Linked DNA regions of Homo sapiens. The protein of the gene in region 3 purifies or fractionates together with the protein of the main gene of each other region. This does not show direct contact. Each region holds a gene or a part of one and is shown on either strand. Other genes may lie near its edges.

The links.
Region 1: the proteins of ACTR3B (region 3) and CD109 fractionate together in Homo sapiens (co-fractionation; one large-scale study listed by BioGRID). This does not show direct contact.
Region 2: the proteins of ACTR3B (region 3) and NFASC fractionate together in Homo sapiens (co-fractionation; one large-scale study listed by BioGRID). This does not show direct contact.
Region 4: the proteins of ACTR3B (region 3) and CMSS1 purify together in Homo sapiens (affinity purification with mass spectrometry; one large-scale study listed by BioGRID and IntAct). This does not show direct contact.
Region 5: the proteins of ACTR3B (region 3) and PUS7 purify together in Homo sapiens (affinity purification with mass spectrometry; one large-scale study listed by BioGRID and IntAct). This does not show direct contact.
Region 6: the proteins of ACTR3B (region 3) and CLCC1 fractionate together in Homo sapiens (co-fractionation; one large-scale study listed by BioGRID). This does not show direct contact.
Region 7: the proteins of ACTR3B (region 3) and TMEM33 purify together in Homo sapiens (co-immunoprecipitation; one large-scale study listed by IntAct). This does not show direct contact.

The regions. Positions count from the first base shown.
Region 1 is NC_000006.12:73,807,703-73,811,202, reverse strand, and holds part of CD109 (CD109 antigen isoform 1 preproprotein), read right to left. Parts: intron 3,121-3,500; coding exon 2,955-3,120; intron 1,220-2,954; coding exon 1,029-1,219; intron 212-1,028; coding exon 56-211; intron 1-55. UniProt on the Homo sapiens protein: Modulates negatively TGFB1 signaling in keratinocytes.
Region 2 is NC_000001.11:204,827,210-204,831,451, reverse strand, and holds the start of NFASC (neurofascin isoform 1 precursor), read right to left. Parts: upstream 2,801-4,242; 5' UTR 2,777-2,800; coding exon of another isoform or gene 2,670-2,776; intron 1-2,669. UniProt on the Homo sapiens protein: Cell adhesion, ankyrin-binding protein which may be involved in neurite extension, axonal guidance, synaptogenesis, myelination and neuron-glial cell interactions.
Region 3 is NC_000007.14:152,797,752-152,801,251, forward strand, and holds part of ACTR3B (actin-related protein 3B), read left to right. Parts: intron 1-2,779; coding exon 2,780-2,904; intron 2,905-3,500. UniProt on the Homo sapiens protein: Plays a role in the organization of the actin cytoskeleton.
Region 4 is NC_000003.12:100,156,862-100,160,361, reverse strand, and holds part of CMSS1 (protein CMSS1), read right to left. Parts: intron 178-3,500; exon of another isoform or gene 1-177.
Region 5 is NC_000007.14:105,515,772-105,519,271, reverse strand, and holds part of PUS7 (pseudouridylate synthase 7 homolog), read left to right. Parts: intron 1-3,500. UniProt on the Homo sapiens protein: Pseudouridylate synthase that catalyzes pseudouridylation of RNAs.
Region 6 is NC_000001.11:108,953,485-108,956,984, forward strand, and holds part of CLCC1 (chloride channel CLIC-like protein 1 isoform 1 precursor), read right to left. Parts: intron 1-3,500. UniProt on the Homo sapiens protein: Anion-selective channel with Ca(2+)-dependent and voltage-independent gating. Permeable to small monovalent anions with selectivity for bromide > chloride > nitrate > fluoride.
Region 7 is NC_000004.12:41,941,929-41,945,428, reverse strand, and holds part of TMEM33 (transmembrane protein 33), read right to left. Parts: intron 1,683-3,500; coding exon 1,615-1,682; intron 637-1,614; coding exon 503-636; intron 1-502. UniProt on the Homo sapiens protein: Acts as a regulator of the tubular endoplasmic reticulum (ER) network by modulating intracellular calcium homeostasis. Mechanistically, stimulates PKD2 calcium-dependent activity. Suppresses the RTN3/4-induced formation of the ER tubules.

The DNA.
Region 1 (3,500 bases), on a different chromosome or scaffold from region 3:
TCCAGCATAAAGAATTGTCTACACTGATTTTTAAATAACTGCCCCTTGCCCACACCTCTGCTGTCTGAAGGAGTAAGCGGTTGTGTGTGTCAATCAGAAACTTTACAGGACTTGGTGAGCTAGGCCCCGTCACGGTCACTTGGATATTTGTCCTTTCTGTATTCATTAGGGCTGCAAATTCAGACAGAGCCTTTAAAGCCACAGTGGTATCCTGTTGAGGGAAGAAAAACATTTGTACATATAAGTATATATCAAGGTCTTCAAAGAGTAAATTTAGTAGTATTTTGTTGCTGGATATTCATACACCTTCCTTCAGAGTGGAATGCTCCCTGATTCATATTTGAATGTCCTTGGCCTAGAGTACAGGAGAGGCTCAGAAAATGTTTGCTGAAATGTTTTATAGTTTTTAGTGTATAGATCTTATTGATTTTTGTCAGATTAATCCCTAAACAGTTCACATGTTATGCTATTTTGATTTGCATTTCCATTGCTTATATATAGATACAATGGATTTCTGTACAATGATTTTTTTATACCACAATGTTACTAAATTCACTTGTTAATCCTAGTAGCATTTCTGTAGATCCCACTGAATTTTGCTCATAAATGATCATATTATCAGTAAATTAAAAGTTTCAGTTTTTCCTTTCCAAAAAGAAGAAAAGAAAATAGAAAATATTTGCTATATGGAACTGAACATCTACTCTTATATCAGTTACCACAGATGAAAAGTGGCAGATGGGGAACTGATTTATTCCATATAAATATCAGACATGAAATTCATAGTAATGAGGAGAAAAAAATTAAAATTAATCAATTTAGCCTTTTGCTTAAGTTACTAAACTTTGAAACTGCCAAGTAATTTTATGAAATCAAGGAAAAAATGCAACCACATACTTTTAAAAATATTTTTTATATATAACATATGATTTATATAATATATACTATATATTATATATAAAATATATATAATAAATAAATCTATATTATATATTATAGTTTAAAGGGAAAAAACTATCATCTCTCACCTGAGTAGATGCAAAACCACCCAAGCTATTTCTTTGCCTGCTTAGCCACCTCATAATTGGGATTCCCTCAGAAGTCTGAAATTGTAAGAAGTGTGAGAGCAGTGCATAGGCTGCAACTTCAATATCCAGGGAGCGTGGCTGCCAGGAGTCAGAAAGTTTGGACTCTGATGACACCCAGAATTGCATGCCACCTGCAAGAGAAAAGTAATAACATTCTGATCAATTATCCAGAAAAATTACATTTTATACCATTAAATATTCCTACTCTGGTCCAAGTTGTACTTAACTAGCATAAAAAATATATACTTGTATACATGTATTTATTTATGCCAGACATGTATTTATTTATCACAAACACACACACACATACATATGTATACATGTGCCTATATGTTGCTTTTTTAAACTATTACAAGTTAAGTATATCTTATCCAAAAAGCTTGGGGCCAGAAGTGTGTCCAATTTCTGTTTTGTTTGAATTTTTGGAATATTTACAGCATACATACATTCCAAAATCTGAAATGCTCAAAAATCTGAAACTTTTTGAGCACTGACATGATACTCAAAGGAAATGCTCATTGGAGCATTTTGGATTTCAGATTTTTGGATTAGGGATGCTCAACCTATATACTTGTAAATTTTCATCCTTTTCCCATTGCCTACATTTGAGGATGTTTTGATGAAAATAGTTTTCCTATGAGAAATTCCCTATATTTGGCTCAAGACTAAATAGCTATAAATAAAAGGAAAAAATAATATATTTCAGAAGATAATGCACGTTACTTATCTGACCAGGCCATCCCCAAAATATTTTAAGACACATTGAAAAGAATCCTATTCTGGGAATCTGCCATTAACTAGCTCTAATATTCTGGACTCTCCCATTTTCATTATCTGAAGGTTGGTGTTAACAGTTTGAGGTTCAAGCCCCCAGGAAAAAAAATTAGGATCCCCAGCTAACTCAACAACCTTCCTAGAGATAATTCTGCTCTAGTCCCCAGAGGACCATCCTACTTGGTGCCCTCTCTCAAATATTACTATTTAGATGATGACTACACTTAGGTGGAATATTAAATAACTACCACTTAGCCAAGCAGACAAGAAGAAAAAATGTCAAAGACTGCTTCAGCCTCTAAGCAATAATCTTCTAGTCCCCAGCTTTGGAATAGGTAACAAGGATTCAATCTAAGTTACTGTTAATACAATATTTTTTACAGTCTCAGAAGCCTCTAAACACTTTCTACAATTATCCCTTCTTGAATTAACAGAAATTTGAATCACTGGACATTATCTTATTTCTGCCCACCCACTTCCATCTCTCTCTTTCTTACACACACACACACACACACACACACACACACACACACACCTGGATCCCTGTCCACTTTGTATATAAAATACACATAATCCACTTACTAGCAGCATTTTTTGGTATTCACATTTCTTTTAATTAGCATTTTAGTTCCTATTTTTGAGCATTTGCTATGCAGCAGCATTGCACATTATCTCATTTAATCCTCACAGCCACTCTAAAATAGGTGCCATTTCCACTTTACAGTTGGGAAAACTGAACCTCATAAAGGTAAGTTGCAGAACCAGGATTTAACCTGTCTCTCCAGAACCCAAGGTCTTAGCAAACTACAAGGCTGCCAAACCAGAAATGGTATCAGACACTCAAAGGGTAACTGACATAGGGCATCACATATCTAAAATAAAGAGACATCTGAGCCCTGAAATTCTGTTAAAAAAACCCTGGGGAGACCAGAAGCATTGTGGCCATGTCAGGCCCATCCTGATCTCATTATGTGTTTTACTTTTCACCAAAAGATGCAGATGTAATCAATTTCAAACCTGGCTAAAAATTTTTCTCATGTAAGTTATATATTTCATAAAGCATAACAACCTCAAGTGGGCCCAGCACATTACCTTCTTGTTCTGCTCTCCAAGTCAGCATATTCAAAGCTTCCTTCGCTTTAGGACTCCCCACTGATGACAATGCATAAGTTATAAGGGCTAGAGTATAATTGTCTGAAATTCCTCTACTGAATTCAGACTCCAAAAAATGGATAGACTCTTGCACATCAATGTTAGGCTTGGAAGAAAAAAAGTATGTTTTTTACTATTCAGAGTAACCCATTACCACATACTGAAACAAAAAGTACTTTGAAACATGCATTTAAAAAATAAGTTCAGTGTCTATGAAGTACCTGACCTTGTACTAGGCAATGAAAATCAACCATGATCATTGACATTTAAAGATTTGCCATGCATTTTGAAAATAATACTGTTTTTCAGTTTTTATAAGTAAACAGGTGTCATTCCCTAGAAGAAAAAAGTAGAGCTTTTGCCAGTGTTTCTCCCACTCAGTATCACAGACTCAGATAAGAACAGCAAACTGCTTGAGAAATATATTTCTTATATTTGATCTCTGGTAGTGCGGCCCTAAGTTCAGGAAAAGTTTAGCTTCTACAT
Region 2 (4,242 bases), on a different chromosome or scaffold from region 3:
TGGCCCACCCACCCCAGAAATGCAAAGCCAGAACCCCACCCCCAGCTCTCAGCCACCTCTTCAATGTGTGCCTTAAAAGAACCAGCCCTTGTGAGCGCAGCCAGTTCAGCCCACAGGGAGCTGGCTAGGTACAATTGGAAGGTCTTGCTCCAGCTCTCTGGGGAGCTGGCTTCTCCCTCCGTGTGCCTTGGTTTATTTCTCCGTACTCTTTCTGATGCCAAACAAGGGGGTGAGGGGTGAAATTCATTGCACAAAACTGGGAAATATGTACACTGTTATTAGAATCCCCCACTTCACCTGAGCTCCAGTCAAGCATTTCAACATCAGGACCTTAATCCAATCAGCTCTCAACAACGGCTGCAGGTAATGCTTTCTCCCTGTACCAGGAAAAGCTGGCAGCCCTTAGGCACTGATGCCAGGGAAAGCTTCCAGCCCCACCCCCTCTCACGCTGGAGAGGCGACGGAGAAGGGTGACAAAGCAAGGTGCAGCCAGTGCCCCCAGCAGCACATCCCCTTGCCAGGCACTGCCTGAGGCCCATTCAGAGTTTACTGCACAGGAGCTGAAGGAGTCCAGTCACTTGGATTCCTAAAGTGAAAGCCTTGCAGAGAAGGGACAGAGTCTGTCTGCAATTCGCTCTTAACGCCTCAATTTAAGCCTCTGGGTTTCGTCTAAGCCCCTAAGACAGGAATCGGGCTGCCATTCCCTGTTCCACAGTGGCAACCACAATTTCTGGGGCTAAGTGGGAGTGAGTCTCTTTCCTTACTGGCATAATTCTCTCTCTCTCTCTCTCTCTATACACACATCACACAACACACACACACATCACAACACACACACACATCACAACACACACACACATCACAACACACACAACACACCCCTTCAGTTGAATCCAAAGACAAGGGGAGAAATTACTCCCTCCGAAGTGCCAGCTCAGTCAAGACAAAAGGTGAAATGTATTAGCTGCGTAGCAGGCCCCCATCTCCTTCAATTCTTCCTGCAATGCAATTCCACCACATCCAATCATCCCCAAACCAGAAGGAGGATAGATCTCTGCCTGCCTTCCTCCACTGCCCCCACCTCACAGCTGGTATGGCCCCTATCCCCAGAGGCTTCCACTCTTCACACACATTTTCCCTGGGCTATTCTCCTATTGCTTTAAGTTCTGTGGGCTCTGAGGCTGGCTTTGGCTCCACACAAACAATTAAACTCCTGTCCAACCAGGTCTCAAAGCCCTGTGGCTTGCCCTTGCCTTGCTGGAGATTTGACTGAGGCCCAGCAGGGCCCAGCACATTTCCAAGGGTAGATGAGACGCACTAGGCCCTCATGCCAGGGACACAGGCAGGCAGAAAAGGGGTATTGTTGTCCTCTCCCCCACACTGAGGGATGAGGCATCTCTGCTCAACACACACACACACACACACACACACACACACACACACACCCCATGCCAAAATGCCAAGGAAGGAGTCAGGAGCAGAACCTGGCTCAGGACAGGATGGGGGCTGCCATGGGGACCAGATTCTAGGTGATTCAGCACTCTGCCCACTCTTGGCCCAGCCCATGGGCCACACTCATGACAGCTCCAGATGCCAAAGTGCTGACTTGGAGGCTGAAGCAGAATCTTTTCTAAAATCCAAAATTATCCAGCCCTCCAGCAGGGCTCCTCATCCAGGCCTTTACATCAGGGCTCAGGCCAAGCCCCAGGAGGAGTCTGCTCAGTCATTCCCCTGGACCCTGCCCCTTCCCCATCCTAGTTTCCCAATGCCTAGCACCCCCTCCCCCAATCCATCTAGGAAACAAACCTGAACAGCTAGAGGAGTAGAGTGGCTGCATGGCTGGAGAGGAACATAAGAGAGAGGCCTACTAACCCCCAGCATTCTTCCCCAAGCCACAAATAGGATCGAACATGCAGAAAGGGGTTATATTCCACAACCAAGATCCCCACCCAGGGAAGGGGGGTCCAGAGGCCACTGAGGGAGGGCTGGGTACAGGCTGTATGGCTCCACACAGCACCAGGAAGGGCAGCTAGGGAAGGTGACGGGTGTCAGGCCAGCTAACAGCCAAAGGGGGGAGAAGGCGGGGTTCTTGAGAGGGACTGTGATGCAGGAGGACACCAAGAGGCAGCTGGGAAGGGGCTGGGACAGGGCGTGCAAGGGGGAACCAGGGGAGGACAGAAACTGAGGGAGCAAATGGAGAGACAGGACACCAACTGGTAGGGGCATGAGATGGGGAAGAGAATAGGGGAGGCAAGAAGGGGCTGATGTGTGCGGTAGGAAATACAGGAGGCATGGGGTCATCCAAAGTGGGGTGTCGAGGTAAACAGAAGTACAAGGGCAGGCAGGGCTCACGGATGAGGCGGGGACAGAGAGGAAAGGGAAAGGGTTGAGGATGCGGGAAGGGGGAGGGGACGCGGCCAACGAGATAGAAAGGGTGTTGGGGTGGGCAGGGGGCTGGGAGCTGGACGGGGACGGGGTGGGCATACGAACAGAATCGGATGGATTCGGGGCAGGTGACAGTGTGGAGAGGGGAAGGGATGGGAATGTGGACGGAGGGGGAGGGGGCAGGTCAGGGGATGGAGACAGACGAGGGCGGGAACAAGGGGGTGTCGCTAGGTGGGTTTCCATGACTCTCTACCCCCATCTCTCCGGTGTTCGCGCTCGCCTACCTCCAAGGGCTCGGGCTCCGGCCCTGGGCGCTGTCCGAGCTGTCCGCTGCCGGCGCCGCCACTTCCCCCGCGTCCCCTGCAGCGCCTCTCGCCGCCAGCCGCCGCATTAGGGCAGAGACCAGCCCGTGCGCGTCCCCGGGCGGCCGGCGCGCCCCCGACACCCTGCGTGCGCGCCCCCGCGCCCCTCCCTTCGCGCTCCTAGCGGCCGCTGAGCGGGGACCAGGACAGAGGCGGAGGGAAGGATGCTCCGGACGCAGCCCCGCCTGGCGCGCTGGGGAGCGGTGCGCAGAGCCAGGGCCGGAAAAAAAAATCCTCCTTTCTCTTTTCACCTGAGGCCTCTTTGCGGGCTTGCCTGGAGAGTGATAACTAGTCTCCCCGTTTCCGTTCGCTGAGCACCTACTACGTGCAAAGCACACAGGAGGAAGTACCCTGAAGCCCCAACAGGATCGCTTGTTTGCACCTCCACCATAGACTGTGACTTTAGGGAGCAGGAAGTTGCCGGACAGCTTGTGTTCTCAGGGCCTAGCACAGAGACTTGTTTGTGGTAAACTCTCCAGCAACATTTGTTGATTGGCAAGTCGTTGGATCCTGATTCAGGGATGTGAGAGAGGTTGTGACTGCTATGAACAGTGCGGGGCTTTCTTTTAGAAATGGGAGATTTCCTCTGCCCTAGGGGGACTCAGGCCTCAGTCGTGGCTGGAGAACTATCTGACATGATAGCAAGACATTTATCTGTGGACATCAGTTTCCACAACTGAACCATGAAAAGTTGATTGGGTGGTCGCCCAAGGTCTCTTCTAGCTCTGACACGAAGACTGCATTAGGTTCTGTGCACAGGATCTGAGCTCAGAATTATCACCTGAAACAGTGGAAAGATCCCAGTTAGGGAATCATAGAATCTTTGTCTTGGAAGAGCACTTGGAAGCTTCTAGTTCAGCTCCTCATCCAAAACTACAGTCCCCTGCAGCATCCCTCTGTGGCCCCATTCAAGGGCTACTTTCTCTGTGCTCATAGCTCCTACCCTGGCACCACTGTCTTTTATTCTGGATGAGAACACCAAAGTTCAAGGAACCTGCCCAAGTAATAATTCAAAGCCCAGATGCATCTGACAGTGCCTAGTTAAAACTACTTTGCTATTTTAAGATGGGCCCTACAAGTTTTAGATTTCACCAATACTAGAATCTTCTAATATGGTCAAGTTGAAGGATCACAGGATTTGCCAAGAAAGTCCTGGCTTACCAGCAGGGTAAACTTGGGCAGTTCACTTAACCTCTCTAAGTCTTCTTTTTCCCATCTGTAAAATGGGCATAGAGTGAGCATCAATGAGATAAGGTACTGAACCAAACTGTTCTTTACAAATGTTAATTATTGTTCAGCCTTCCCTCCCCTTTCTTCATTACTTTTAAACAGCAAATACACGAAGGTCTAGAGAGATGGACCCCACACAGTGGTTTGGTGGTTGAAACTGAACTGGGACTCAAGTTTCATGGCCTTAGTATAAAGAAATTAAGTGTGGGCCTAAAGGGAGCATGGTGACCCCCAGAGGCCCTGAGGGTGAAGGTGTTTCCTTGGC
Region 3 (3,500 bases):
AAGATCCTGCATATGAATGAGACCATGTGATATTTGTCTTTCTGTGCCTGGCTTATTTTACTTAACATAGTGCCCTCGAGGTTCATCCATGTTGTGGGCAGATGGCAGAATTTCCTTTTTTTTTTAAATGGCTGAATAGTATTCCACTGTTTATAAAGCCACATTTTCTTTATCTGTTCACCCGTTAATGGACACGTAGGTTGATTCCAGATCTTGGTTATTGTGAATAGTGCTACAGTAAACATGGGAGTGCAGATAGCTCTTTAACATACTGATTTCATTTCCTTTGGATATATGCCCAGTAGTGGGATTGTTGGATCGTATGGTAGTTCTATTTTTAATTGTTTGAGGAGCCTCTATACTGTTTTCCATAATGGCTCTACTGATTTGCATTCCCACCTATAGTGTATAAAGGTTCTCTTTTTGTCACATCATCACCAACACTTACTATCTTTTGCTTTTTTGATAATTGCCATTCTCAGTGGGGTGAGTTGATTGATATTGTGGGTTTGATTTGCATTTCCCCAATGATTAGTGATGTTGAGCATTTTTTCATATACCTGTTGGCCATTTGTATGTCTTCTTTTGAGAAATGTCCATTCAGGTCTCTTGCTCATTTTTCACTTGGGTTATTTGTTTTTTTATTGCTGTTTGAGTTCTTTATATATTTTGATTATTAATCTTTTGTCAGGTAGATAGTTTGCAAATAGTTTCTCCCATTCTATAGATTGTCTCTTCACTCCGTTGATTGTTTTCTTTGCTGTGCAGAAGATTTTTAGTTTGATGTAATCCCAGTTATCTATTTTTGTTACCTGTGCTCTTGAGGTCTTGTCCAAAAAAATCCTTGCCCAGACCAATGTCATAAAGCATTTTACCGTTTTCTTCTAATAGTTTCACAGTTTCAGGTCTTACATTGAAGTAAGTCTTTAATCCATTTTGAGTTAATTTTTGTATATGGTTGAGAGATAAGCATTCATTTTCATTCTTCTGCATGTGGATATCCAGTTTCTCCAGTAACATTTACACTTTGCCCGTTGTGTAAAATCAGTTGAGTGTAAATACATGGATTCATTTCTGGGCTCTTTGTTCCACTGGTTTATATGTCTGTTTTTATACCAGTACCATGCTGTTTTGATTACTGTAGCTTTATAGTGTACTTTGAAGTCAGGTAGTGCGATCCCTCCAGCTTTCTTCTTTTTGCTTAAGATTCCCTTGACTGTTTGGGGTCTCTTGTGGTTCCATGTGAACTTAGGATTATTTTTTCTGTTTCTGTGAAGGATGCCATTGGTATTTTGATAAGGACTGTACTGACTCTGTACCTCACTTTGGGTAGTAAGTCACAAAGATTTTGATTCAGAGAAATTTTATCTAGCATTTACATTTGTATAGCTACAGAGTCGTACTTTCATCAGAAATACATTAAGGACAGTGAGAAGCCATTAGTATATTTATGGAATTAGGTTTATGTTAGAATTATTTAGGTATAGTTTGACCATTTTTCAAACCCACAATAAATATTTTAGTGGAGTAAAATGTTAATTTAGCAAATATTTCTCTAATGTCTGTTCTGATAGCCAGTGGCCTGCTTAGGTGCAAATCCTGTCTGTCTCTTAGAAGCTGTGTGACCTTGATAGATTGTTAAGCTTCCCTTTCTGTGAAATGCAGATAATAGTACCTGTCTCATAAGCTATTGTGAGGATGTAATAAAATAGTGTGCAAAAGGAAACACTTAGCAGAGTGTTCAATAAATGTAAACTTTAATTATTATTATTAGTTATTGACTTCAGAGCCTCCCACTGGAGAGACAGTTAAAGATGGGGGTTATCTGATGTCAAGGAATCTATAGTTTGGTAGACTGATCTTAAACAATTGTAATTCATCCAGAAAAATGCCTTAATGCAGGTATAAAAGGGCCAGTGGAAGCATCAAACACGTGTGCAGAACTGCAGGTTGTCAAGGAAGCCTTCAAGTGAGGAGATGGTGTTGATGTCGAGACCTGATGAATGAAAATAGCTCATGGGAGAGCTCAAGAGTGTGAGCAGGAGTTAGAAATTTCAATGGAAAATGGAATCTTTGTGATGCCCTCCACATTTCATTAGCTGTCTGGAGTGAATTGATATGATTATTTACTGCTAAGTATATTCCCAAATATTTAAGATTAAGATCTTATTAAAATAATGAATTATAAAGCCATTAATATTTGGAATTTTTATGTAATAGTTATTTGATTATGGTACTTTTTTTGGCTACAGATATTAACCAATAACATTCTAATTTATCCTTTTAATGGGATAAATTTTAACGGTTTTTTTTCTTCCTGTAACAAGACTAAAAGTACATTTTAAGGCTATGTGATGTAGAGTCTTATTATAGACATTATTTTTCAGTTTACTCTCCTTTTCTGTATTGTACAGAATTTTGTCCCCTTCTATATTGTATTTTAAATTTGGAACCTACTGATGTATAGGCATTTCACTTACTATCTTGAGGGATTTTTCCAGATAAAACTGAGAAATTTTGCAATGGACCTTCTGTCAGTATAAAAGTAGAGCAGCTCATTTCCTTTGTCCCATTCTGAAAATCATACCAGAATAGAATAGCCTGCTTCTGTATTATTTTATGTACTCATTGACATTGTCTTTTCTGTGAGCACCCTTCACCCCACATGGAGCCCTAACAATGAAAATTTACTTGTGTGTATATAAGGATATTATCCCTTTTGATCATTTAAATAGATATGGATAGTGATAGAAATCTGTGTGTGTGTGTTTTTTTTAAGGTATTGCCATCAGAGAGTCAGCAAAGGTAGTTGACCAAGCTCAAAGGAGAGTGTTGAGGGGAGTTGATGACCTTGACTTTTTCATAGGAGATGAAGCCATCGATAAACCTACATATGCTACAAAGGTAAATTTCCGACAGGTGTTTGCTTCTCTAAGTGTAGAGTAGTAGGATGAGTAATGCAAAATGGTCATCTAGAAGTTGTATTTGCGAGTTGTAGAATGTGTTATGTTTGAATTCTTATGTTTGAATAGAGGTGGTGGTGATGGTTGGTTTTGAATGGGGGTATTTTTGATTGGAGAATTAAGGGAATTAACAGATCCCTGGAATGCAGAATAGACTCAGGAAACACCAGGTCACACATGAAAGCAAGATCCCCTCCTCTGGAAAATTGTTGACAGGTTGACTAACCTGTCAGATGAGGGAAAATTGCAGATTGGTTAATTAAAAAGAAACACTAACGTTATTTAAGCAGACTTTTTTTTTTTAAAGCTCCAGATCCAATTGTATGATAATTAGCTGCAGTTTTCTATCGGTTCCTCATTGTATTTTTTGTTGTTGTTTTTTTAGAGATAGGTCTTACTCTGTCATCCAGGCTGGAGTGCTGTGATGCCGTCTTGGCTCACTGCAGCCTCGACCTCCTGAGCTCAAGCAATCCTCTCACCTCAACTTCCCAAGTAGGTGGGACTACAGGCACGCACCACCAAGCCTGGCTGATTTTT
Region 4 (3,500 bases), on a different chromosome or scaffold from region 3:
CCAAAGTACTTTCTGCCATGCATGTATTCTTCAGAGTATCTTGGTAATATTCTACAGAAAGAGAGATGCTGGAAGATCTACCGTAGGTTACTATGCAGCGGTTGGGCTGAGAGAATTTGAGAAAGTCAGAAAGCGCAGATGACTTAAGACTGGAGAATCTTTGAGCAAGATCAAATTGTGAGTGAGTGTATATGTGTGCTTGGTGTGGAAGTGCAGTGTATTGGAGATTGAAGACAGTGGCTGAGTTTGTATAATACAGCAGAAATCGATGTGATTAAAATTAAGATGTGGTAAGACAGTCTTTGACTAGAGTGACTAAGGTTTTCCATGAACTAGCTGTGTGTGAGCCTACATTTCCAAGTCACTGGTTTATTGTTTTGTATTATACATTCCTTTCCTCTTTTCAATAAGCATAGAAAATCCAAAGTAAGATATATTAACTTACGTTTTTATAAACCAGCTGCATCAAATGCCTTTGCTATAATGACTACAAAATGAATGTCTTTGCTACTAGTCTGATAACCGTCTCAGCACCACAGTATCTAGAGTAATCTGTTTTGCCTGTTGCCTTGACCCCTGAGTACCCCAGTTTAGTACTATTTTTACCCTGAGGGCTTTTTTCTAATGTAGAAAAACAGGAAATTTGGACTAAGACCTTGATTTATAAAATAGAATGCCCCAGATTCCATATTTATTAATCATAAGCAGGAGTATAAAATGTTTCCTGTGCTGGACCTTTTATGCAACATTGTCAAACAAGTTGCCAAGTAAGATATAAAATGTAAGTGAAAACTTATTCTGAGTTTTCCTTGATTAACTTTCCATTCCAACCAGAGAATACTCAGTTTAAACTGATAAGCTACTAACTAAAGCAATCTTGTCTCCACTGGCTCTGCTAAAATGATTACAGATGAATCTTTCTATGAAAGCTTGCAGACAGCCTGCAGATTGAGAATGTCTATGGCCTGAAGTCAGAGAGAAAGATATAATACTACATAATTTCTTCAAGACATGGGGCCAAAGACCCGCAGTTTCAAGATTCTCTTTTAGTTATTACAGAAATAGATTTAAAAAGTTCAGGATTAAAGTGACATGGGAAATCTTGAAATTTTAGTTTCCTCTAAGATAAAACAAAAAACCTGCAAAGAGCAATTGCATCATAGCTAAAGAAAAGAGAGATATGGCTTCTTTTATTTAGAAAGTTAAACTGTCTTGTGGATGTAGATACATGCCAATTTGATGCTGGTACATGCCAATTAGAGACTGTGCCAAGGCCACTAATATGTCACAGAAGCTGCCAGATGGCCATAAGAGTCCAATTACAAACCAGGCCAGTGTTCAGCTCATGTTCCTAAGGCAAAGGCCGGGATATGATTAGCAGATCCCTTAAACTATACTGCATTATCTCTACCAGTATCAAGGTTTTTGGGAAGCGTATTTAGAAACCTGTTACAATCTATTAACGTATGGAGGTGTTCTCGAGGAATATGTTCAGTGTACTGGTTGCATTTGTGCTAGGTTTACAAAGCCAATTAATTAAAACATGACATAAATTAAATCTAGAAATGAGCTCAATTGTAAGAATATGGACTCTTTAATTCTGGGAGAAAAAATAAAAATGTAATTCTGAATCATGCACAGGAAAACGAAACATGCTTGATGAACTGCTTTAGCCATGATATTGCTTCAGTTAAATGATAGGTTCAAATTCTTACATCATCCTAAAGGAAATGCAAAATAATCTTTGGTTTTGGAGACTAGTTACTTTAGCTGGCTGTGGTAGGGTGCCAATGAAGAGGCCAATTTTATGGGGTCAATTTCCATAGAGGTGAGATGACTTTATGGAGAAATCCAAATCCACAGTATTGAAAATTCTTACATTTAGTTAACTGCTTTATGAATGTTGCTGTTTACCCTCAGGGAGACTAGGTAGGAAGATGTGAAAGAATCCGGCCAAGCCACTAAGCATTTCTGGAAACCAATTCCAACACTGTGTGACTTTGACAGTTGATAAGTAATGTCATTTCTTTATATGAAATGTAGCAATTTTAAATATGTAGTCTGAAGAATCACACTCCCCTAAAAAAATGTTGCTTTTAAGGGAAGCAACTAGAGCATATTTTCAATTCCTTAAAGTATCAAAAATTACTTTAAGAATGATTCTCCTGGTTACACATGGCAAATGGACCTCAAAATACCAGTAAACTGAAAATAAAGGGCATTGAAAAGGACCTATTGAGCAGGATCTATATAAAAACCAAGAAACCAGGAGAGAGAACAACAGTAATGGAGAGATTTCAACAACTTTTTGGAAAATGGAAAGTGGCTGGAGCTGGATAGAAGTGACTTGGCACAGAGAGAAAGCTAGCAGCTGGGTTTCAGAAGGGGTGGAAGCTAACAATAAGTAAGTCTTTGACCTGCTCGACTCTGAGAAGGTCCAGTACTTTGGAGGCACAAAGTACTACAGAGAGTAAAGGGTTAAAAAAGAAGAGATTGGCTGAAAGTTTATATTTAGAATGATTAGCTACTCCTGTCCCCCACTAGGTGATATCTCCTACCCTGGTAGCCAAGCAACTATCCCATTACTGCTTCCTTTCACCTTGCCTGTCCTGCCAGCCGACTGGAGATCTATTCTCTGAAGACATCAAGAGGATCAAGGCTGGGCCAGGGGAGAAAGGGCAGAGGCTGAGGCTTGCCTCCATTTCCTGTCCCTATTCCATGCTTACATATTGCAGGCAGGAGACTACTGAATTCCTCTTTGGAAAAATGGAATGGCCTAAAAGAAATACCATCAGAGAGTGACGTTTGGGAGTTCCATAGTAAAAAATCCAGCTTGTTATCCTATCACCCTACCATGAATACACTAATTGACAAACCCAACTCATCACTGTTTCAGTGTATCTCTCTTCAATAAGAATGGATAGCTAAGGTTCCTCAGACATCTAAGGAAAGTCTCCAACACAAGAGCAAATAAATAACAAAAAGAAAAATGAACCTAGAGAAAAGTGGGATGGTACCTCAAAATAATGACAATTCATATCCTCAGAGAGATAAGGGAAGATTTTGCAACCATGAAACAAGAACAAGATGCTGTAAAAATGGGAAAAACAGTTAAGCATTAAAACAAATAAGAAATGTGGAATAAAAATAAACGAGGAAGGCTTGAAGATAAAGTAGAGGCAATGTCCCAGAAAGAGATGAAAAATGAAAAGAAAAAAGTGGTGAGAAAATCAGAGAATCAGCCCAAGAGATTCAATTTTTCAATAAATGATATTATAGAAAAAGAGATCACATAAAACAGTAGGGGGCTTGGCATGGTGTCTCATGTCTGTAACCCTAGTGCTTTGTGGGGCCAAGGTGGGAGGACTGCTTGAGGCCAGGAGTTTGAGACCAGCCCTGGTTACATAGTGAGACCCTGTCTCAACAACAACAACAACAACAAAAAACAGCCAGGCGTGGTGGCTCACACCTGTAATCCCAGCACTTTGGGAGGCCGAGGC
Region 5 (3,500 bases), about 47 Mb from region 3:
ACAGAGGAAAACTCCATCTCCAAAAAAAAAAAAATTAGTGTGTTCTCTGTGCTCTGGCCCTAAAGAAAATGCTCACTATTGTGAGAGCTATAGAGATTACTGATAATTTGCAGGGGATGGAGGAAAGATGTATTTACAAAGTGAAAGTTGTGGATAGTTTTGAAATATAATATGATAGAATTAAGACTAATGGCTGTTTTTGTAGGCTGGGCGCGGTGGCTCAGGCCTGTAATCCCAGCCCTTTGGGAGACCGAGGCGGGCGAATCATGAGGTCAGGAGTTCGAGACAATCTTGGATAACACGGTGAAAGCCCATCTCTATTAAAAATACAAAAAATTAGCCTGGTGTTGTGGCGGGCGCCTGTAATCCCAGCTACTCAGGAGGCTGAGGCAGGAGAATCTCGTGTACCCGGGAGGCAGAGGTTGCAGTGAGCCGAGATTGCGCCACTGCACTCCAGCCTGGGCAATAGAGTGAGACTCCGTCTCAAAAAATATACAAAATAAAATAAAAAATAATTCAAAAAAAGACTAATGGCTGTTTTTCTGATGTTTATTTTGGAGGAATTAATTAATAAGGGACTGTTTGGCCTGGGCGGTGGTGCACACCTGTAATCCCAGTTGAGGCAGGGCAGATCACTTGAGCTCAGGAGTTTGAGACTAGTGGGCAACATGGCAAAACCCTGTCTCTACAAAAAATACAAAAATTAACTGGGCATGGTGGCACATGCCTGTAGTCCCAGTTACTCGGGTGGCTGAAGTGGGAGGATCGCTTGAGCTGGGAGGTCGAGGCTGCATTGAACTGAGATCACGCCACTGCACTCCAGCCTGGGTGACAGAGTGAGACACTGTCTCAAAAAATAAATAAATAAACAAACAAGAGACTGTTGTTAGTGTTATATTAAAATTTTGAAAATGCTAAACTTAATTTTTGTTATAGGTGTAAAGGATTTTATTTTTTTTTTGAGACAGGGTCTTTCTGTCACCCAGGCTGAAGTGTAGTGGCACCATCACGGCTTACTGCAGCCTCAACGTCCTGGGCGCAGTGGATCTTCCCACCTCAGCCTCACAAGTAGCTGGGACTACAGGTGCATGCCACCTTGCCCGGCTTATTTTTATTTATTTTTTGAGACAGAGTCTCCCTCTGTCACCCAGGCTGGAGTGCAGTGGCGCAATCTCGGCTCACTGCGACTTCTGTCTCCCCAGTTCAAGCGATTCTCCTGTCTCAGCCTCCTGAGTAGCTGGGATTACAGGGCCACACCACCATGCATGGCTAATTTTTGGATTTTTAGTAGAAATGGGGTTTCGCCATGCTGGCCAGGCTGATTTCGAACTTTTGACCTTGTGATCTGCCCACCTCGGACTCCGAAAGTGCTGGGATTACAGGCATGAGACACCACACCCAGCTGCCTGGCTAATTTTTTAATTTTTTGCAGAGACATGGTCCCACTATGTTGTCCATGCTGGTCTCAAACTCCTGGTCTCAAGCCATCTACCTGCCTGCATTTTTTCAGAGATGAAGTCTCCCTCTGTTGCCCAGACTGGAGTGCAGTGGTGTGATCATAACTTACTGCAGCCTTAAACTGGTCTCACACAATCCTCCTGCCTCAGCCGCCCTGTTAGCTGGGACTACATGCACACATGCCCAGCTAAGAGTACTTCTTAAAGCTTAGTTGGTGAATCTAGTATTTTAATGAAAAGGGTTTTAAAATACTGTTAAAATTATAATATTTCTATTCTCAGTTGTCTCATTTGGAGTGCAGAGGAAACAAAAAACATTATTTTAGCATTCCCTCCAAAGAAATGTGAAGGATTGGCCAGGCGTGGTGGCTCATGCCTGTGATCCCAGCACTTTGGGAGGCCGAGGCAGGCAGATCACCTGAGGTCAGGAGTTCAAGACCAGCCTGGCCAACATGGTGAAAACCCGTCTCTACTAAAAATACAAAAATTAGCCAGGCGTGTTGGCGCATGCCTGTATGTACTCTCAGCTACTTGGGAGGCTGAGGCGGGAGGATCACTTGAACCCAGGAGGTGGAGGTTGCAGTGAGCAGAGATCACACCACTGTACTCCAGCCTGGGTAACAGGGTAAGACTCCATCGCCAAAAAAAGAAATGTGAAGGATTTTAAGTTTTGGGGAAAGTATCAGAGGAGTTCATTCTCTTCCTGGTTTAACATCAGGCTTCTGGTCTATGGGGTTTTACTTGACAATTAAGATACCATCATTACTATCATGGATAGTGTATTTGTGCAGCATGTTTTCTTAAAATTTTTTCTTTTAAATATGTCAAAAAATGCATAAAACTGCCCTCTCCCCCCTTTTCACATCTAGTAACTTTATATCTTCATTCAAGATAGAATGCTTGGGCTTTCCTGACTGCAAAACTGATTTCCTTGGGCCTCTCACCTTGGGGTAGTCAGGCTTGTTTTCTCTTTGCAATTTAATTCTCTCAGGCCTCTTCTATGTTCATAAGATCACCTCTCTCTCCTCTCCCCAACCCTCAATTTAAAAATTATATTCCAGTCCGGGCGCACTGGCTCACGCCTGTAATCCCAGGAACTTTGGGAGGTCGAGGTGGATGGATCACCTGAGATCAGGAGTTCGAGACCAGCCTGACCAACATGGTGAAACTCCGTCTCTACTAAAAACACAAAAATTAGCTGGGCGTGGTAGCGGGCGTCTGTAATTCCAGCTACTCAGGAAGCTGAGGCAGGAGAATCACTTGAACCCGGGAGGTGGAGGTTGCTGTGAGCCGAGATCAGCCAAGATCACGCCATTGCACTCCAGCCTGGGCAACAAGAGCAAAACTCCGTCTCAAAAAAAAAAAAATTCCATTTCAGCTTCCCTTTCACGTAGTTCCTGCTTGCGAAAATGACACTAGTTTGAGTTTTGCCTTTCCTAGTCCAGAGCTCTGAACAGTTCTTCTAGTAAATATGCTCTCCGCTTTTAGGCCTATAGGACAGAACTTAGAAAAATATATATTAAGTGATTTAAAAATCATTGGTACTATATATACTTTAATAATTAATTTGGGCCGGGTGCGGTGGCTCATGCCTGTAATCCCAGCACTTTGGGAGGCCAATGTGGGTGGATCACTTGAGGCCAGGAGTTTCAGACCAGCCTGGCCAACCTGGTAAAACCTGGTATCTACTAAAAATACTAAAATTAGGCCAGGCGTGGTGGCTCACGCCTGTAATCCCAGCACTTTACAAGTTTGAGGTGGGCGGATCACCAGGTCAGGAGTTTGAGACCAGCCTGACCAACATGGTGAAACCCCGTCTCTAGTAAAAATACAAAAAATTAGCTGGGCTTGGTGGCACGCGCCTGTAATCCCAGCTACTCAGGAGGCTGAGGCAGGAGAATCGTTTGAACCCAGGAAGCAGAGGTTGCAGTGAGCCAAGAACATGCCACTGCACTCCAGCCTGGGCAACAGAGTGAGACTCTGTCTCAAAATAAATAAATAAATAAATAAATAAATAAATAAAATAAAATAAAATACAAAACT
Region 6 (3,500 bases), on a different chromosome or scaffold from region 3:
GCCAAGACAGAAAACCACTGTTAATGTGAACTTCTCTAGGGAAAGATAGTATCTTACCTAGATCTGAAGTCACCTTCCCACTGGCCTCTCTATCTTGTCCCTCCATCTCCCCAACCTCAACACCCAGCCCAGTGGTTGGCACGTGAAAGACATTCAGTAAATGTTTGTTAAGCAGCAAATGCAAATAAAGCCATAGCAAGGACTCAAGGATTTTAGAGGTTCAAAGGATAAAGAAAGCACATCTGGCCAGGTGCAGTAGCTCACGCCTGTGATCCCAGCACTTCGGGAGGCCGAGGCGGGCAGCTCACCTGAGGTCAGGAGTTCGAGACCAGCCTGACCAACATGGAGAAACCCCATCTCTACTAAAAATACAAAATTAGCTGGGTATGGTGGTGCATGCCTGTAATCCCAGCTACTCGGCAGGCTGAGGCAGGAGAATAACTCGAACCTGGGAGGCAGAAGTTGCAGTGAGCCAAGATCATGCCATTGCACTCCAGCCTGGGCAACCAGAGTGAAACTCCGTCTCAAAAAAAAAAAAAAAAAACACATCCGACTGGAGAAACTAGAAAGTGGAAAGACTGCACAGGAATGGGAATCCGAGGTATGGGTAACATCTTAAGTGCTCAAGATGGGAGAGGCAGAGGGCAAAGTGTATGCTTCAGCAATTGCAATTGCGAGGATGGATACGGTGAGAGGTAGAGGTGGGTGGGTGGTGATGACACTGCTGAGGAAAAAAGCTTACGACTAACTCCCAGGACTTTGGGAGGCCGAGGCAGGCAGATAATGAGGTCAGGAGATCAAGACCATCCTGGCTAACATGGTGAAACCCAGTCTCTAATAAAACAACAACAACAACAAAAATTAGCCAGGCGTGGTGGCACACACCTGTAAATCCCAGCTACTTGGGAGGCTGAGGCAGGAGAATCGCTTGAACCTGGGTGGGGGACGGAGGCTGCAGTGAGCCGAGATCGTGCCACTTCACTCCAGCCTAGGTGAAAGAGTAAAACTCGGTCTCAAAAACAACAACAACCACCACCACCACCAGCACTAAGCGCACAGGAGGAGGAAAACCTGGATTCATTATCCAACAAAGAGGCTGAAGCAGAAAAAAGATGTGGTACTTGGCCTAAAAGAGTGGTGGCAAGAAAACCAGAAAGAACACATGTGGCACACTCTGAAGATCAATTCTACAGACCTTGGCCTACCAGCAACAAAAATGGTGATGTTAATTTTAAAAAGAAATTCATAATGAGAATATGGTTGTGGAACGAGTTCAGCATTCATTTGTTCAACATTTACCAAATACCTACTGTATACTGGGCACTGTCTTTGCGTGTGTGTGTGTGTGTGTGTGTGTGTGTGTGTGTGACGGAGTTTCGCTCTTGTCGCCCAGGCTGGAGTGCAATGGCACGATCTTGGCTCACTGCAACCTCTGCCTCCTGGGTTCAAAAATTCTCCTGCCTCACCCTCCCAAGTAGCTGGGATTATAGGCATGTGCCACCATACCCAGCTAATTTTTTGTATTTTTAGTAGAGAAGGGATTTCTCCATGTTGGTCAGGGATTTCTCCATGTTGGTCTTGAACTCCCGACCTCAGGTGATCCACCCGCCTTGGCCTCCCAAAGTGCTGAGGTTACAGGCATGAGCCACCATGCTGGGCACTGTCTTAAGTTACAGGGATACCAGGAGTCTACACAGACAAAGGTCTTCTTCAGGAAGGTTACATTCTAGGGGGGAAGGAAGGACAGTAAGTTGGCAAAAAAACAAAAACAAAAACATGTAACTCAAGATAGTGATAAATCCTAAGAAGATAAAGCAAGACAGTGGTACATATGGATTAGGCGATGCTGGGTATTTCAGGGTAGGCCCCTAAGATCTAAGACGGTCACAAATGCTTTGTTACTCTCCCCACGGAAAGATGGAGTGTATTTCCCCCTCTCCTGAATCTGGGCTGGCCCTGTGACTACTGAACCAAAATCCTTTGGTTGAAGTGGGGCTATGATGGTTCTAGGCCTAGCCTTCAAGAGGGTCGCCTGCTTCTACTTCACTTTGGAACATGTGATGGTTAAGTGTCAACTTGACTGGACTAAGGAAAACCTAGAGAACTGCAAAGCATTCCTTCTGATGTGTCTGAAGGGGTTTCCAGGGAAGACTGGTTTGTGAGTCAGCTGACTGAGTGTGGAAGATCCACCCTCTGTAGGGGCCAGCACCATTCAGTCAGCTGGGGACCCTAATACAACAAAAAAGAGAAAAGGAATTTCTTTTCTCTCCTGGAGCAGGGACACCCTTCTTCTCCTGTCACTGGACATCAGAACTCCAGGCTCTCCAGGCTTTGGAATCCCAGACTTAAACCAGCAGCCCCTAGGTTCTCAGGCCTTCAGCCTCAGACTGAAAATTACACCATAGGCTTCCCTGGTTTTAAGGCTTTCACACCTGGACTGAGCCAGGCTACTGGCCTTCCAGGATCTCCAGCCTGTAGACAGCCTATCATGGTACTTCTCGGCACCCATAATCATATGAGCTAATTCCCCTAATAAATCCCCTCTCATCCATCCATCCTCCCACCCTCACTGTCTCTCTGGAGAATCCTAAGACAGAACATATGTTTGTGGGAACACGCCCCTCTTGGAAGCCAGCTGCCACCTTGTAAGAAGGCCAAGTCACACGAAGAGGCTGGGTGCAGGGGCACACTGAGCTCCCAGCCTGCAGCCAATATCAATGGCCAGCCATGTGGGTGAGCCATCTTGGTGGTTCCAGTCCAACCTCTGGTGACTGACTTGGTGACCCAGCCAACATCATGTAGAATAAAAGAACTATCCAGCTGAGCCCCATCACACCCCATAAAACCACAACATCACCAGCAGTAATAAAAGTGTTATTTACAGCCATTACACTTGGCCAGGCATGGTGGCTCACACCTGTAATCCCAGCACTTTGGGAGGCTGAGGCAGGCGGATCACAAGGTCAGGAGATCGAGACCATCCCGGCTAACACAGTGAAACCCCGTCTCTACTAAAAATACAAAAAATTAGCCGGGCATGGTGGCACGCGCCTGTAGTCCCAGCTACTCGGGAGGCTGAGGCAGAAGAATCACTTGAACCTGGGAGGCGGAAGTTGCAGTGAGGCGAGATCACACCACTGCACTCCAGCCTGGGTGACACAGCGAGACTCCGTCTCAAAAAAAAAAAAAGCATTACACTTTAGAGTGGTTTGTTACATGCAAGCAGATAACCACAAGAACATTTAAGGAGAAAAATAAGATAATCTTAGGAAGATTTGGAGAACATCCAGAGAGAAGACACAGCAAGTATAGAAGCCCTGAGTGGAGAAGAAGCTGAAGCAGTCAAGGAACAGAAAGGAGGCCAGAACAGCTGGGTCTTGGGAATGAGCTGGGAGGCAGGGAGGCGGGGAGGCGGGGAGGCGGGGAGGGAGTGGTAGACCACAGTAAAGAGTGTGGTTTTTACTCTATGTGTAACAAGAAGCCACTTGAGGCTTTTAAAT
Region 7 (3,500 bases), on a different chromosome or scaffold from region 3:
AGGTGTATTGTTTTAAAATGTAATGCAAAAATTTCAATGCAGAGGTCAATACTATTTTAATGTTCATACTTTTAAAAGGATGGCTTTCTTTATTCATGTATTACTTCTATAATTAAGATACAAACAAAATAAGGTGATAGTAGGCACTATTAATATAAGAACATAATTTTAAAAGTTTTTCTCTAGTGTAAGAAACATCATCTCAATAGTGACAGACTGGACTAGATTAGATTTCATAAGATTCTTTCAAAGGTGGTAACTATGAAAGTAATTTTTAAAATGTCAAATGATAAATCACAAGGAATAAGACAAATTCCTAGGTCTACTATATTTCAAGTTCTCTACTATAAATGACAAAGGTTAGATTAGGCAACTGCTAAGATTCATTTAGCTCTACATGTCAATACCTACCTTCAACAGATTTAAACAGAATAAAACTTGAGTTACTATCTTTATTACGTTCAGTCATCAGCCTCCCAAAACAAATATAATTTTTCCTTACCTAAAAAGCATAAAAACTGTCGCAGGCATCAGGAATATTTCATTGCAAGCAATGAATTTCAGAATATTTTGTTGATTAGCACTTAATTTGTCCAAGACAGATCTCAGCAGAGGTAAACTATTTGAGCCCCTTGCCTAAAACAAAAGAAAACCAACATTAGAAATAAGTGAAGCATTTCTGATAACAATATTTTCTTTCTGTAGGTAAACAGCCTATCCAACAGGCAATACAACCAAATATACTACTTTGGAAATGATGGTACGAAGTTCACAAACTATTTAAGGACAAATATAGTATATTTTCCTGCTTTTTTACATTTTTAGACTTAATATAAAAAACAACTTTAGTAAAAGTACTTTTCATTCTTAGCTGCTTTTTCTCAAGAATGATTATTTAACAAAAAATAGTGGTTATTTCTCTCTAACCACAACAAAATCTGACTATCCAGTAATACAGTTAAAATATCTGTGACTCCTTTCTTAGCTAATGTTAGAATTATACAGCAGTGTAATTACTGCTGTGACCAAAGAATTATAGGGATAAAGAAAAAGGCCAATACAAAGCATAAATCTGGCTATTTTAATTCAAATTTCTGTAAATGTGCTTGGTAAATGTGCCTGGATATTTTAATTCAAATTTCAGTATATGCTGTAAATGGCCTGGTGCCAAGTTAGGTTTAATGCTCCAACCTAGCAATAAGAAAGAATTTCAGGAAAGCAGCAGTTCTGAAAATTAGTGTACAAGAGATTCATTCAGTACACTCAACTTATCAGGTATGCCAGAATTAAACACTGACAGAACAAGAGATCTGACAACTCAACAAACTTTAGAGACACAGGTTTCAAAAAAACTGATCTATTTCAAACTTGAAAAATTCCCCTGGAGACTGGGGGGTGATTTTAAGTGCAATCCTTTATCTATAAAATGTTCTAGTTTGTGAAACTTCAACAATAAACACTTTTAAACTTAAAACTTTCAAATCACTAAATAATTCATAACAAGTTTGTAAGGTATAGAGGGACTTTTTGTGACAAATACCAAAATGTCTTAGAACTCAAATTCATGTCAATGATCTGTAATTCAGAAGTCAGACAAAGAGCAGTTTTACTTACGTCAAGGACCTTTTTCGTATATGTGGCAGCATGAAGCAAAGAGAATAACAAGACTGGGAAGATACTCACTAAAGAAAACAATTAAGGAAAACATTTAAAAGTCATCAAGTATTCTGCAAAACAGACTATGTATTATGTCCAAATATACAGATGTGAAACATCTGCTAAAATGAGTTCAGTGGAATGGCTTGTTTTACTGATACACTTTAAGCCAAATCAAATTTTGTTCACTATAAAGAAGAAAGTAAACTATTTCATTTTCTAAAATTCACAGTTCTTTTTTTTTTTTGAGACAAAGTCTCACTCTTCTCCCCCAGGCTGGAGTGCAATGGCGTAATCTTGGCTCACTGCAACCTCCACCTCCTGGGTTCAAGTGATTCTCCTGCCTCAGCCTCCCGAGTAGCTGGGATTATAGGCGCCTGCCACCACGCCCAGCTAATTTTTGTATTTTTAGTAGAGATGGGTTTTCACCATGTTGGCCAGGCTGGTCTCGAACTCCTTACCACAGGTGATATGCCCACCTCGGCCTCCCAAAGTGCTGGGATTACAGGTGTGAGTCACTGCGCCCGGCCAATTCACAGTTCTTTTCATGACAAAAATTAATAGTGAAAAAAAGGTTTTTCCTTCATTTCTACTGGGTAACAATGTAAACACTTGCTAAATTAAACTGAAATCTAGGCCACCCCAAAGGGTTGTAAGTATAGCTTCTAACCCTACAACGGCTTTCTTGGTCACTCTAACTTAGCCTTCAAACACAGTAGTTTTACAGTGCTTTCACAATCTCAAACGCTGAGGAAAGAGTCTAAGGTAACAGTTTAAAGAGTAATTCCCAAATTTTTAGTCCCAAAGACTAAAGATCTTTTATTACTTCTTTCCTACAAGGACTCCATTATTTTGAGATACTATACCTAACAAGTTGTCACAGTTATGCTCTCAATTTGTAAAAATTAACAAGGCAGTATGTATTTTGCTTTGTATATAGTCAATTGAAACTCTCATCAGCTTAATTACAGACATAAGGAAAGAATCCTTTTGAGTCCAACTGTTTGGCTTTATGCCATGGATAAACATACATTTTTCATTCAACTTTTTGAAAAATGGAAATTGTTCAAAAGACCCCATTCTCCACCCCAATTTCTGCCAGGTTGATTAAAAAAAAAAAATTGTCAAGTAGTTCCACAAAATGATATAGACTGTTAGTCAATCACAAATGGCAAAAATACTTGTCCTAAAAATATTACCAGTTCCTAAGAAATGAACCATTGTATTTTTCTATACTAACTGAAGGCCTAATATGACAGGAAATAGTGATTGCTGTAACATAATCTGAGTATCAAATTCATTATAACCATAACTCATTTAGGAATTCAAGGGTCCCAGTTTCCAATTGACAAGCAAGACACCAACCTATATCCAAGTATTAGAAGAACCCTAACTCCCTAATATAGTTCTCCAAATTAATATCCTGACCAACTCATTCCCACCTCTAACAAGAATTAAGAAAAATGTCCATTTCCTAAGTAGAGATCATATATGTATATAAAAAGTTTTAAATTTTTTAATGAATCATAGACTACTTTGAAACTGATGGAAGCTACAACCCTCTCCAAAAGTCACTATAAAACTCTGTCGATCCTTAAAGAATTCAATTTAAACTTTGACACATATCCAGACTGAATTCAATAAAAGGGGCAGTGTCAGGTAGTGAAAATAGAGCCCTGAATTGGGAGTCAAGATACCTGAGTTCCACTCCTGACTCTGTCACTAACCTAATTTTCCTAGGTCAAGTTTCATGCTCTGGCAAATGAGTATGCAGAGATCAAAGCTAGAAACTGCCAATGAGTCTTTTATGTCTAACATTCTATAGTTCACAAATCCTTGGTAAG